Linked DNA regions of Homo sapiens: region 2 is linked to region 1. The links come from fine-mapping of genetic effects on gene expression. A gene starts in region 1. The other region holds a variant in brackets. All regions are shown on one strand. Distances are from middle to middle.

Region 1 (5,381 bases):
ATTTGGGGCACTCCTTTGAGACTACCAAGTTCAAGTCTCTGCCTGAGCCCCACTGGATGACCACATTGAGCTGACTCAAGCCCACCTGGTGAAGTGGCGCGTCTGACCCTCGCCAGGAGTCCTGTTGCTCCTTTCAGGGTATCTCAGCAGAAGGCTGAAACAACCTAGTATCTGAAACAACCTAGTATCAGATTTGAGCTTTGGTTGGGTGGGGGAGTCTTAGGAAGCGGGGATTTGCTCTGGATTGGCTCTTACCAGAAATCGGGTCAACACCATGACTAGGTTTCTGACTAAATCCTATATACAGAGAGGGAAGCACACAGACAGACAGGCTGTCAGGGGTACAAAAGCGGCGGCTGCTCACGTTAGCTGAGAGAGGGGCTGCTGGGTATCTTGTAAATGGCACAGCAAGTGACCTCGCTTTATCTGGGTGGAGACACATCATGAAGTGGCCTTGCTTTGTCTCATGTCATTGTGTTTCAGTGACCTTGGCCTAGGTTGGTTTTCTGCGTGATGGTTCAAGTCTTACAGAACAGAGTGGCCCAGCTGTAGCACCCGGCCAGTTTCTGGATGGCAGGGGCTGCCCTTTTTCTTTCTCAGTCCCCTTCATTTTACACATGAGGAAACTGAGGCACAGAGAAGTTGTGATAGTTTAAAAATGGCTGCAAATTCTTTCCAGCACCTCCCATTGAGAGGTGGAGTACAAGTTCCCCTTGCCTGGGTCTGCAGTGTCTTATGACTTCTTTGATCACGAGAATGTGGCATAATCAATGCTGCGCAACAAGTTGGGCATGGTGGCATATGCCTGTAGTCCAGTTAATTGGGAGGCTGACCCGGAAGGACTGCTTGAGGCCAGTTGGAGGTCGCACTATGATTGCACCTGTGAATAGCCACCACACTCCAGCCTCAGCAACACAGGGATGGACTTGCTGGGTCATGTGGAGATTATGTTTAGCTTTCTGCAGAACTGCCAAACTGTTTTCCACACCGCAACGTTATACATTCCCACCAGCCATATGTGAGAGTTCCAATTTTTCTATATCCTGTTTTTAAAAAAATTACCACTATTTGAGTAGGTGTGAAGTTGTATCTCACTGTGTTTTGATTTGCATTTCCCTAATGATTCGTGATGTTGAGCCTCTTTTTATTTGCTTATTGGCTGTTTGTATTATCTTCTTTGGAGAAATATGTCTATTCAAACCTTTGCCTTTTAAAAAAGTGGACTGTTTGTCTTCTTGCTAAGAGTTCTTTATATATTCCAGATAGTAGATCCTTATCAGATATTCGATTTGCACACCCTTCTCCCATTCTGAGTTGTCTTTTCACTGTCTTATTGGTGTCCTTTTACCTGAGTAAGTTTTTAATTTTGATGAAGTCCAAGTTATCTATTTTTCTTTCTTGTGCTTTCAATATTATATCTAAGAAACTATTCCCTAATCCAGGGTCACATAGATTTACACCTACTTTTCTTCAAATAGTTTTATGTCTTACGTGTAGGCTTTTGCTCTAATTTGAGTTAATTTTTGCCTCTGATGAGAGATACACGTCCAAATTGGTTCTTTTGCATGTGGAGATCCAGTTGTCCCAGTGCCGCCATTATTGAAATGACTATTCTTTCCTCTACTGAATGGTCTAGGAACAATATGTTTTCGGCATAAACTGATATATATAATAGATGTATCCTATTCTTTTTAATATTATAATTTGTGTTACTTAAAAAAATACTCTTAATAATAAAGCATTCATGTATTTAACAAATATGCACCAAGAGTCTTCCTGGGCACACACAGTGAATAGGACACAGTTCCTGGGCTCCAGGAGCCTACATTCCAGAGAGGGAGAGACAGTGAAGGAGCAGGGAAGGAACTCAACAAAACAACGGGTGATGAGAGCTCTAAGAGCAAACAGATCAGACAGAGGTGGGAATACGGGACTGGGTAAGCATGTGCTTTGGATCAGAAGGGGCGCAGAGTCCTCCCAGAGGAATCAGAGATCAGCTGCGCCAAGTCTCTGAGGCTGGAACCAGCTTGGCTTGCTGGATGAACTGGGAAAAAGAGGTGGGGTGCGGGGGAGGGGTGGGGGGGGCAGCGGGAGAGTGGCGGGAAGTGAGGGCAAACAGGTAGGGGAGGGTAGACTAGCAAGGCCATAGGCGCCTTCGGGAGCAAGGTGGAGGTGAGCATAATTTGATGTGCAATTTTTAGATCATAAAACGGTGCCCCGTGGATGGGAGCGAGTGGAGCGGAGGGAGACCGATGACCAGCTAGTAGTTATTTTTCAGGTACCCAGGAATAAAGTGCGGGTTTGGATCTGAGTGGTGGTGAAGTTGAAGTGGAGGAGTCCAGATTGAATGCGGAGGTGTACGGTGAGGTGGGGGAGGGTGAGGACCGGAAACAGTAAGTAATTAAGCTGTTGCAGAGTGAGGTTGTGCCAAGTTTAGTAGGAAATACAGTTGGAAATACAGGCAGGGGTCCTGCGTATCAGGGAGGCCCCGTGTGCCGAGCAAGGACCTGGGCCAAAGCAAACGAGGTCTGTGCGCCAGCGGCGGCAGGCGAGCTTGCACTTAAGTGAGCTGGGGGTAGGCGTCCGGCCTGTTGGACAGGTTCGAATCCTGGATCTGCCGGCTGCCGAGTGACTCGAGCTCGCCGTCCCTGTTTCCTCACCCCTGGGTGACCGCGCACGCTTAATCAGCTCGGACAGGTACAGCCCCTGGGACGCAGTCAATGCCTACGAGAGGTTGCCTGTTAAGTGTCTGAAATATTAATACGATTCGAAGTCAAGACAAGCCTCGTCTTCCACGCCAGCGGGAACGAGAAGGAATCGCTCAGCGTTGGGAGCCTCACCCCGTCCCCTGTCGGTCCCGTGCCCCGCCGCTCGCCCTCGTAGGTGCCGGCGCTCCGCCCCCCGACCCCGCGCCCCGCCCCCCGACCCCGCGCCCCGCCCCCCGACCCCGCGCCCCGCCCCCCGACCCCGCGCCCCGCCCCCCGACCCCGCGCCCCGCCCCCCGACCCCGCGCCCCGCCCTAGTCGGTCCCGGCGCCCCGCCCCCGCCTCCGCCTCCGGCGCCCCGCAGCCCAGCCTCACGTCACGTCAGCCCAGCAGGCCTCGCGCATCGCCCGGCGGCGTCCGCGCACGCGCGGTTCCGAGCCGGACTCTACGCCGGGGCTTGGCGCGGATCGCGTCCCGGGGCGGCGCACGCACACCTGGGCGGGGCGCGGGCAGCTCTGCGTCCGAAGCTGCTCCGACGCCGTCGCTGGGACCAAGATGGACCTCCCGGCGCTGCTCCCCGCCCCGACTGCGCGCGGAGGGCAACATGGCGGCGGCCCCGGCCCGCTCCGCCGAGCCCCAGCGCCGCTCGGCGCGAGCCCCGCGCGCCGCCGCCTGCTACTGGTGCGGGGCCCTGAAGATGGCGGGCCCGGGGCGCGGCCCGGGGAGGCCTCCGGGCCAAGCCCGCCGCCCGCCGAGGACGACAGCGACGGCGACTCTTTCTTGGTGCTGCTGGAAGTGCCGCACGGCGGCGCTGCCGCCGAGGCTGCCGGATCACAGGAGGCCGAGCCTGGCTCCCGTGTCAACCTGGCGAGCCGCCCCGAGCAGGGCCCCAGCGGCCCGGCCGCCCCCCCCGGCCCTGGCGTAGCCCCGGCGGGCGCCGTCACCATCAGCAGCCAGGACCTGCTGGTGCGTCTCGACCGCGGCGTCCTCGCGCTGTCTGCGCCGCCCGGCCCCGCAACCGCGGGCGCCGCCGCTCCCCGCCGCGCGCCCCAGGCCTCCGGCCCCAGCACGCCCGGCTACCGCTGCCCCGAGCCGCAGTGCGCGCTGGCCTTCGCCAAGAAGCACCAGCTCAAGGTGCACCTGCTCACGCACGGCGGCGGTCAGGGCCGGCGGCCCTTCAAGTGCCCACTGGAGGGCTGTGGTTGGGCCTTCACAACGTCCTACAAGCTCAAGCGGCACCTGCAGTCGCACGACAAGCTGCGGCCCTTCGGCTGTCCAGTGGGCGGCTGTGGCAAGAAGTTCACTACGGTCTATAACCTCAAGGCGCACATGAAGGGCCACGAGCAGGAGAGCCTGTTCAAGTGCGAGGTGTGCGCCGAGCGCTTCCCCACGCACGCCAAGCTCAGCTCCCACCAGCGCAGCCACTTCGAGCCCGAGCGCCCTTACAAGTGTGACTTTCCCGGTAACCGCGCTCTCGGGGGCGGGCGGGCTGCGCGGTGTTGCAGGCAGGTCTGGGGTGCCACGTCCGCCCCACAGAGGGGCCTGCCAGACCTTAGCAAGCCGGGGACGCAGGCTCTTCGGGATTTGTATTCTAGCTCCTTCCATGTCATTCGATTTGAGATCTTGGCCCTGCCCTGCCGCAGGGATTCCGATGGCAGGTAGCGCAGATCACCACAGCTGCGCTTCCCAAAGGTGGCGGCAACAGATATCCTTAACCTGCTTGTGCTTGATGAAAGCGGCACGCATCTTCACAGAGTGGCACGGAGCTATGTGTCAGGTCTTTATTTTCCTCAGTCTCGTCATTTGTTTACGGGGTGCACACTCCGTGCTAGAGGAGCAGAGATGAATGTGGCCAGATTCAGGACCTTAACACGCTGGGAGGATAGCCACAGGTGTGCGCACATCCTGGCTTTTTTTGCCTTTTGCACTTTGATTTCCGTTGAACCTCACAGTTTTGTGAAGTTTTAAAAATTAGCCGTCTGTGAAGGTTAAAAACTGTCCTCTTTTACAGATGAAGAGACAGAGGCCGAGCCTTGTGGATAAAGTCCACTGCTGGTGGCTGGGCGCGGTGGCTCACGCCTGTAATCCCAGCACTTTGGGAGGCCGAGGCGGGCGGATTACGAGGTCAGGAGATCGAGACCATCCTGGCTAACACGGTGAAACCCCGTCTCTATTAAAACTACAAAAAATTAGCCGGGCGTGGTAGCGGGCGCCTGTAGTCCCAGCTACTCGGGAGGCTGAGGCAGGAGAATGGTGTGAACCCCAGAGACGGAGCTTGCAGTGAGCCGAGATCGCGCCACTGCATTCCAGCCGGGGCGACAGAGCGAGACACCGTCTCAAAAAAAAAAAAAAAAAAAAGTCCACTGCCTGTTCTTTCTCCTGTGTGTTGACCTGCAGTTGTTGGGAATGTAGGACTCCAACACAGTGAGCTCTTCACCAGGATGGGCAGCTTTCCCTGCTTTCACAGGGATAGGGTTCCTCCAGAAGGGCAAGAAAGGATTCCTCCCTGGAAAGGCAGAAGAATGGAGTCGGCTGGGTGGCAGAGCCCAGGTGGGGATTGTGGTCTGTGGTGAGGGCCCAGGAGGAAGGACCAGTCATTCAAACAGAAACTGGAATGTGTGCCTAGCATGCCCCTAACCTGTATATGCACACGGCTCTCCTTATAATGTCCTTAAA
Region 2 (5,381 bases), 23 kb after region 1:
CAGTTAGACAGACATTCTTACCAGGCAGGACTTTCCAAGGGTCTAGAGATCTCCCAGGAGCTGGGGGCAGAGGCGAGGCCTCTCTGGCAGGGTTAACCCTTTGCCTTGCACTGCAAGTGCCCTGTTTCTCTTTAAGCTTTCCTCTCATGTAACACTCAGCAGGGGCTTTTTGCCTGTGGGGTTTAATGGTGATTTTCCATTTCCCTTATTCTTGTGTACTTATTAATTTTATAAGGAAGAGCTGTCTCTTCTCCCTCATTTACTTATTCGCAGTATGGATTCAATGATACTGATTCTTTTTTTTTTGTTTTTTTTTGAGATGGAGTCTTGCTCTGTCGCCCCGGCTGGAGAGCAGTGGCGCGATCTCGGCTCACTGCAAGCTCCGCCTCCCAGGTTCACGCCATTCTCCTGCCTCAGCCTCCCGAGTAGCTGGGACTACAGGCGCTGCCGTGCCCAGCTAATTTTTTTTTTTTGTATTTTTAGTAGAGACGGGGGTTTCACCGTATTAGCCAGGATGGTCTCCATCTCCTGACCTTGTGATCCGCCCGCCTCGGCCTCCCAAAGTGCTGGGATTACAGGCGTGAGCCACCATGCCCGGCCTCAACGATATTGATTCTTTGGGCTGTAGTCAGTATTGGATTATGATCAATATTATCACCATTTATTTTGTTGCTCCAGTTCTTCCAGCTGTGGCCAATCCTTCAGTTGGATTCTTGTGCCCCATCAACATTCTCCATCCTGGCTTTTTGTTTTGAGCACTTCCTTCCTTCCTAGCACCACCAGGCTCTTGTATTATCCCTGTCCCTGCCCTGGAATCGACTCCTCCTCCAGAGAGCCCTGGTTTCTTTTGTTAGAGGATGGTATATAGAATCCAACATGCAGACACTCGGTGGACTTATTGTTACTGGGGTTTTGTTATACTAGGGTTTCAGTGGTCAGTGCTAGTATTTATGTATGTTAACCCACGCTGTGCTTTGGATTCAGGCTATTTCAAATTTTAGATAATATGGTACATATATTATTAATACCACTAGTTACTACATTGGTACTTTTCAGCAAAATATATCTAAGTGGGATCAAATGAGACTGTAAATAGCTTTACATCAGTTCAGGTCAGTTATGTTGCTAAATTACTTTTGGCATTAAGTTTAGGGAAAAAAAATTGGGTTTGGGATTTTTTGGTTTCAACATTTGTGATTGAGAGACTATGGACCTGTAATAAGTCCAAGAACAGCAGTTGCAGTGTAACAGGACTGTTAATGGAATCGGGTCATTTAGAAACAGTCAAGACTTCGCTGTTGTGCATGTGGTTAGGAGCCAGTGCACACGTCAGTTCTTAGGAAATGTACAGTCTGAGCAATAGCATTTGAAATCCAAGACTCTTCCCATTGTGTTGCTGTTGAGTGTAGAAAATAAAATGTGTGAATTTCTTTATCTTGAGTATTGAGATTCTCCCCTTAGAATAAAACAAGAATTTTTCTCTCAGTGTAAAAATGTCAAGTTTTATTCTTGAAATGAATAGCAAAGTTAAGCTTAAAAACGTGAACAGCTTCAGAACTATAAATGGGTATGTATACCTTTCTGCTGTCTAAGGGCAGAGAAGGGAAAGAAAGTGTGGTGCTTATCAGAGGAGACAGCAGCAAGACACATTGTGACAGAAAACCAAGGGTATCCTGTGTCACAGTGAAGTGTAATGAGGGCACCTCTCCTTTCAAGAGACGAAGATTGAATACATGGGAAGCACACTCTCCGCTGTGTGTTGTCTAGGAGAGGTGCACCCTGTATGGAAATATTTGGGAAGGTTAAGATTAAGACAGGGTAAAATAAAGCAAAGGCAAATCACAAAGCAAGGGCTAATGTTAATATGAAAAGTGCAGAATTCAAGGAAAAAGCATGGGGACAAAGAAGATTTTTCCTCTTTTTGGTTGCTGTTCATGTGTAGCCTACAACAGAACTATAAGACCTATAGACATTTATATGAATATTTATTTGAAAACGTATAATATCAAACAATGTAAAAGCCAATAGAAATCTCAGATAATTGAATGTATAGAAACTAGCAGTTTGAAAGTGATTAGTTCATTATTTGCTGATCAAGCAGAAAAATAAGCATATGAAAGATATTTAAAATGGGATTAATAAAGTTGATTTAACAGATCCTATTCCATGTCCTTTGAATATTTATAGAAATTAAATGGAACAAATTAGGGCATCAGGAAAACTATACAAAAGTCTTTACCAAAAAAAAAAA[T/AT]ATATATATATATGTGTAGTACTACCTATATATATACATAATATATAGTACTGCTTATATATATATATGCCTATATGTACACATATATATATACATGTATAGGCAGTACTATGTTTTCTGATCATAATATGTTAAATTAGTAAAAATTACTTGGAAAACAAAACCTCTAGACAATCAGGTGAAAGAAGAAATAAAAGCGAGGCTGGGCGCGGTGGCTCATGCCTGTAATCCCAGCTCAGCTACTCAGGAGGCTGAGGCAGGAGAATCGCTTGAACCCGGGAGGCAGAGGTTGCAGTGAGCCAAGATCGCACCATTGCACTGCAGCCTGGGCAACAAGAGCGAAACTCCTTCGCCAAAAAAAAAGAAAAAAAATAAAAGCTAATTACAAATACAGGAAAATGGATAGGCCATGTGTTTATAAGTTTGAGCTCTTGAGCCAGTGACTTCCCTGCACGTTCAGCTTTCTCCTTTGTGAAATGGTAATAGAAGCACGCTGCACTTGGGATTCTTGTGGATTACATGTGAGGGTCTTAGAAACACTTGATGTGTAAGCCAACTATTATGTATTACTGTATATGGAACACAAGGGATGTAGCCAAAACTAAATGCAAGTTTGTGCCTCAGATGTCTTCCTATCAGAACAGAGTCAAATCCAGATTTTGATGCTTAAATGTGACAGCTTATTCAGATTTAGAAAAACTTTTGGTATGGGCCAAAGAAAACATATCCTTAAGGGGATATGGCCCCTAGGCCCTCATTTTCCTTTTCTGTCTGAGCAATTAAAAAAAGCATTAAGTAAATTCCACAAATTCTTTGGAATACCTAGAGATAAACAGATATCATGTTAACTGTATGATAATAAGTTAGAATACTTGCAACAAAATGCAGAGTTTTCTAGGAAAACAAGTAATCATTCAGAAATAAGAATATGAATAGTTCCTCAGTTCTCCCCCTTTGTGGAATTTGTGCAGTAAATGCTGCTCCAAAGCTCTGTGGAAAACAGAAGCTTCCCATGAAAAATCTGACAAGGGTATCTCTCAGAAAGAGAGCTGTAATCCCAGCACTGTGGGAGGCTGAGGTGGGAGTATTGCTTGAGGCCAGGAGTTCAAGACCAGCCTGGGCAACGTGGTAAGACCCCCATCTGTAAAAAAAATAATAATTAGCCACGCGTGGTGGTGCACACCTGTGGTCCCAATTACTGGGGAGACTGAGGCGGAAGAATCGCTTGAGCCCAGGAGATGGAGGTTGTCGTGAGCTAGGATCTGCCACTGCACTCTAGCCTGGGTGACAGTAAGACCCTTGTCTCAAAAAAAAAAAAAAGAAAAACTGCAGATTGGTGACTCTTACGAAGATAGATGGAAATGTTCTAAATAAAACACACTTAGGATCTGGCAATATATATATTTAATGTACTATTCTGACCAAATGGAGCTTAATCAGATAGCTTGAGAATGATTTAATGTTACGAAATCTGTTAATTGCATTATCTCAATAATAGATCGGTGAATAACTTTATTATTCTCTCAACAAATCCTGTATTTGATTTACAAAATGGATGGGAGGTTTCAGGGAGAGCAGTTGGAAGCCTGTGTGCTCACCTGTTAGGAACGAGAGTGGCAACAGCAGTGGGGAGGAGTGCTCGGCTCCTGCACCTGTCTCGATGGCAGAGCCCACAGGCTTGGCTGACAGACGTGGGATGAAGGAAAGAGAAGCCTCTCACTCTTCCCACAGCATTGTAGTGCGATTTCATGCAGAAGTCCAAGCAGGTTCCAGGACAATTGTGTAAGAAGCTATGGACAAGAACGTCTAAGAAAACGGAAAATGACATAGAGGATTTGCACTGTAGCTAAGACTTCACGCAAGGCTGTGGCAGCTGAAAGCATGTTCTGGTGCTGGGGCTGCGTGGCAGAGCCAGGAGCCCAGGATCCAGCGCACTGGGCACCGACCTGGGACCTGGTCATCTTTGCGTGTGGAAAAGATGGCATTTCCAGTTATTGACAGGTGAATGCTGGCCTTTTAGGGAAAAAAAAATATTAGAATTCCATACAGAATAAAGAATGAAGATGAGAGGTTAAAGGTTTTTCTAAGGCATGAAGAGCTGTGGGGGCAGCCTGCCCTTGTTCTTTTTGTCGTGTGTCCTTCACATGCAGTAACTCTGTTCACGCCTCACAAAAACCCTATGAGGTGGAGACCTGCCATCAACCCTTCCTGCACGGGTGCCACTGAGGCCCCAAGGTTAAATCATTTCCCAGAGTGTATCAGCAGAGGCACAGCCACAGAGACACGTCCGCACAGAGAGCTTTCCAGATCACCAGTAACAGCGTGAGATCATGGTGCAGAAGGTCATGAGGAGGATGGCAACGAGCGAGACACAGCCGGTTGGTGCTCACAAGGACATTGGTAGATCTGACTGAGGGCCAGGTCGGCTAGGCCTTCCCAGGTGACAGGAGCCCAGTGCCGGCCTTGGTGCACACAGCGCGTCCTTGTGCTTTCTCAGGAGAGCTTCACTGGGGACACTCTGTGATGTTTTTGGAGGGTCATTTGGTAATGTGTTCAGGAGCCAAAAAATATGCATAATATTCAGTCTTACAATTACATTTTTTGAATTTATCTCAAGGAAATCCCAGGGATCTGTGTGAAGCTGCACATGCTGCTGCTGCTCAGTGCGGGACTGTTTATAATATTTGTAACTCAAATGTCCAGAAGAACTGTACACTCTGTGCATGTTTTCAGTAAGTTCATATTTGTAAGAAAAAGTGGGTGTGTTGAGAGACAAATTTTTGTGTACATTTACCTGGAAACAAGCAGTAGTACACATATGCATGCATGAAGTGGTGTTTTCCTGAGTGTTAAGATTGTGAATGTTTTATTATGATCATTTCTACTTTTTCTATTGGAAAATACTTTGTGTAATTAAAACATGAAGATGGAGCTACCATCAAAATGGTGAGCAATAGAGCACTGTTCCTCCTGGGGTGGCCTGGTGGGCCTGAGGGACTCAGGTGGTGATGAGGAGTGGCCTTGAGTCCCTTTCCTTTCCATGGGACAGTGGGGACGAGAGCTAGAGTGATGAGGCAGGTTAAGTGTGTGCCTACCTCCCTGTGGCTGGAGCACTGTTGTGGCCACCCCG

Alleles and levels. Alleles are on the strand shown, and positions count from the first base shown. SD is a standard deviation of normalised expression in the study named.
For the expression in monocytes after Pam3CSK4 of the gene that starts at base 3,235 in region 1, T is the low allele of the variant in region 2 and AT is the other (large effect, 0.77 SD a copy in Quach 2016).

The links. PIP is the estimated chance that this variant, and not a neighbour inherited with it, causes the effect. A credible set is the group of variants that fine-mapping cannot tell apart.
Region 2: its variant is the best candidate, but not a certain one, in a credible set for the expression of ZXDC in monocytes after Pam3CSK4 (Quach 2016, PIP 0.77).

The regions. Positions count from the first base shown.
Region 1 is chr3:126,473,745-126,479,125 of GRCh38, reverse strand. It overlaps ZXDC (ZXD family zinc finger C), which reads left to right and starts at 3,235. Exons shown (of 10, transcript NM_025112.5): 1 at 3,235-4,167. The coding sequence starts at 3,261. RefSeq lists silencers at 2,966-3,475, 3,546-3,805 and an enhancer at 4,363-4,888.
Region 2 is chr3:126,450,935-126,456,315 of GRCh38, reverse strand. The region is part of intron 7 of ZXDC (ZXD family zinc finger C); the gene reads left to right. Among named protein-coding and RNA genes, the nearest start is that of ZXDC, 22 kb to the left of the region's middle. The variant T/AT (reference allele first, on the strand shown) is at 2,252.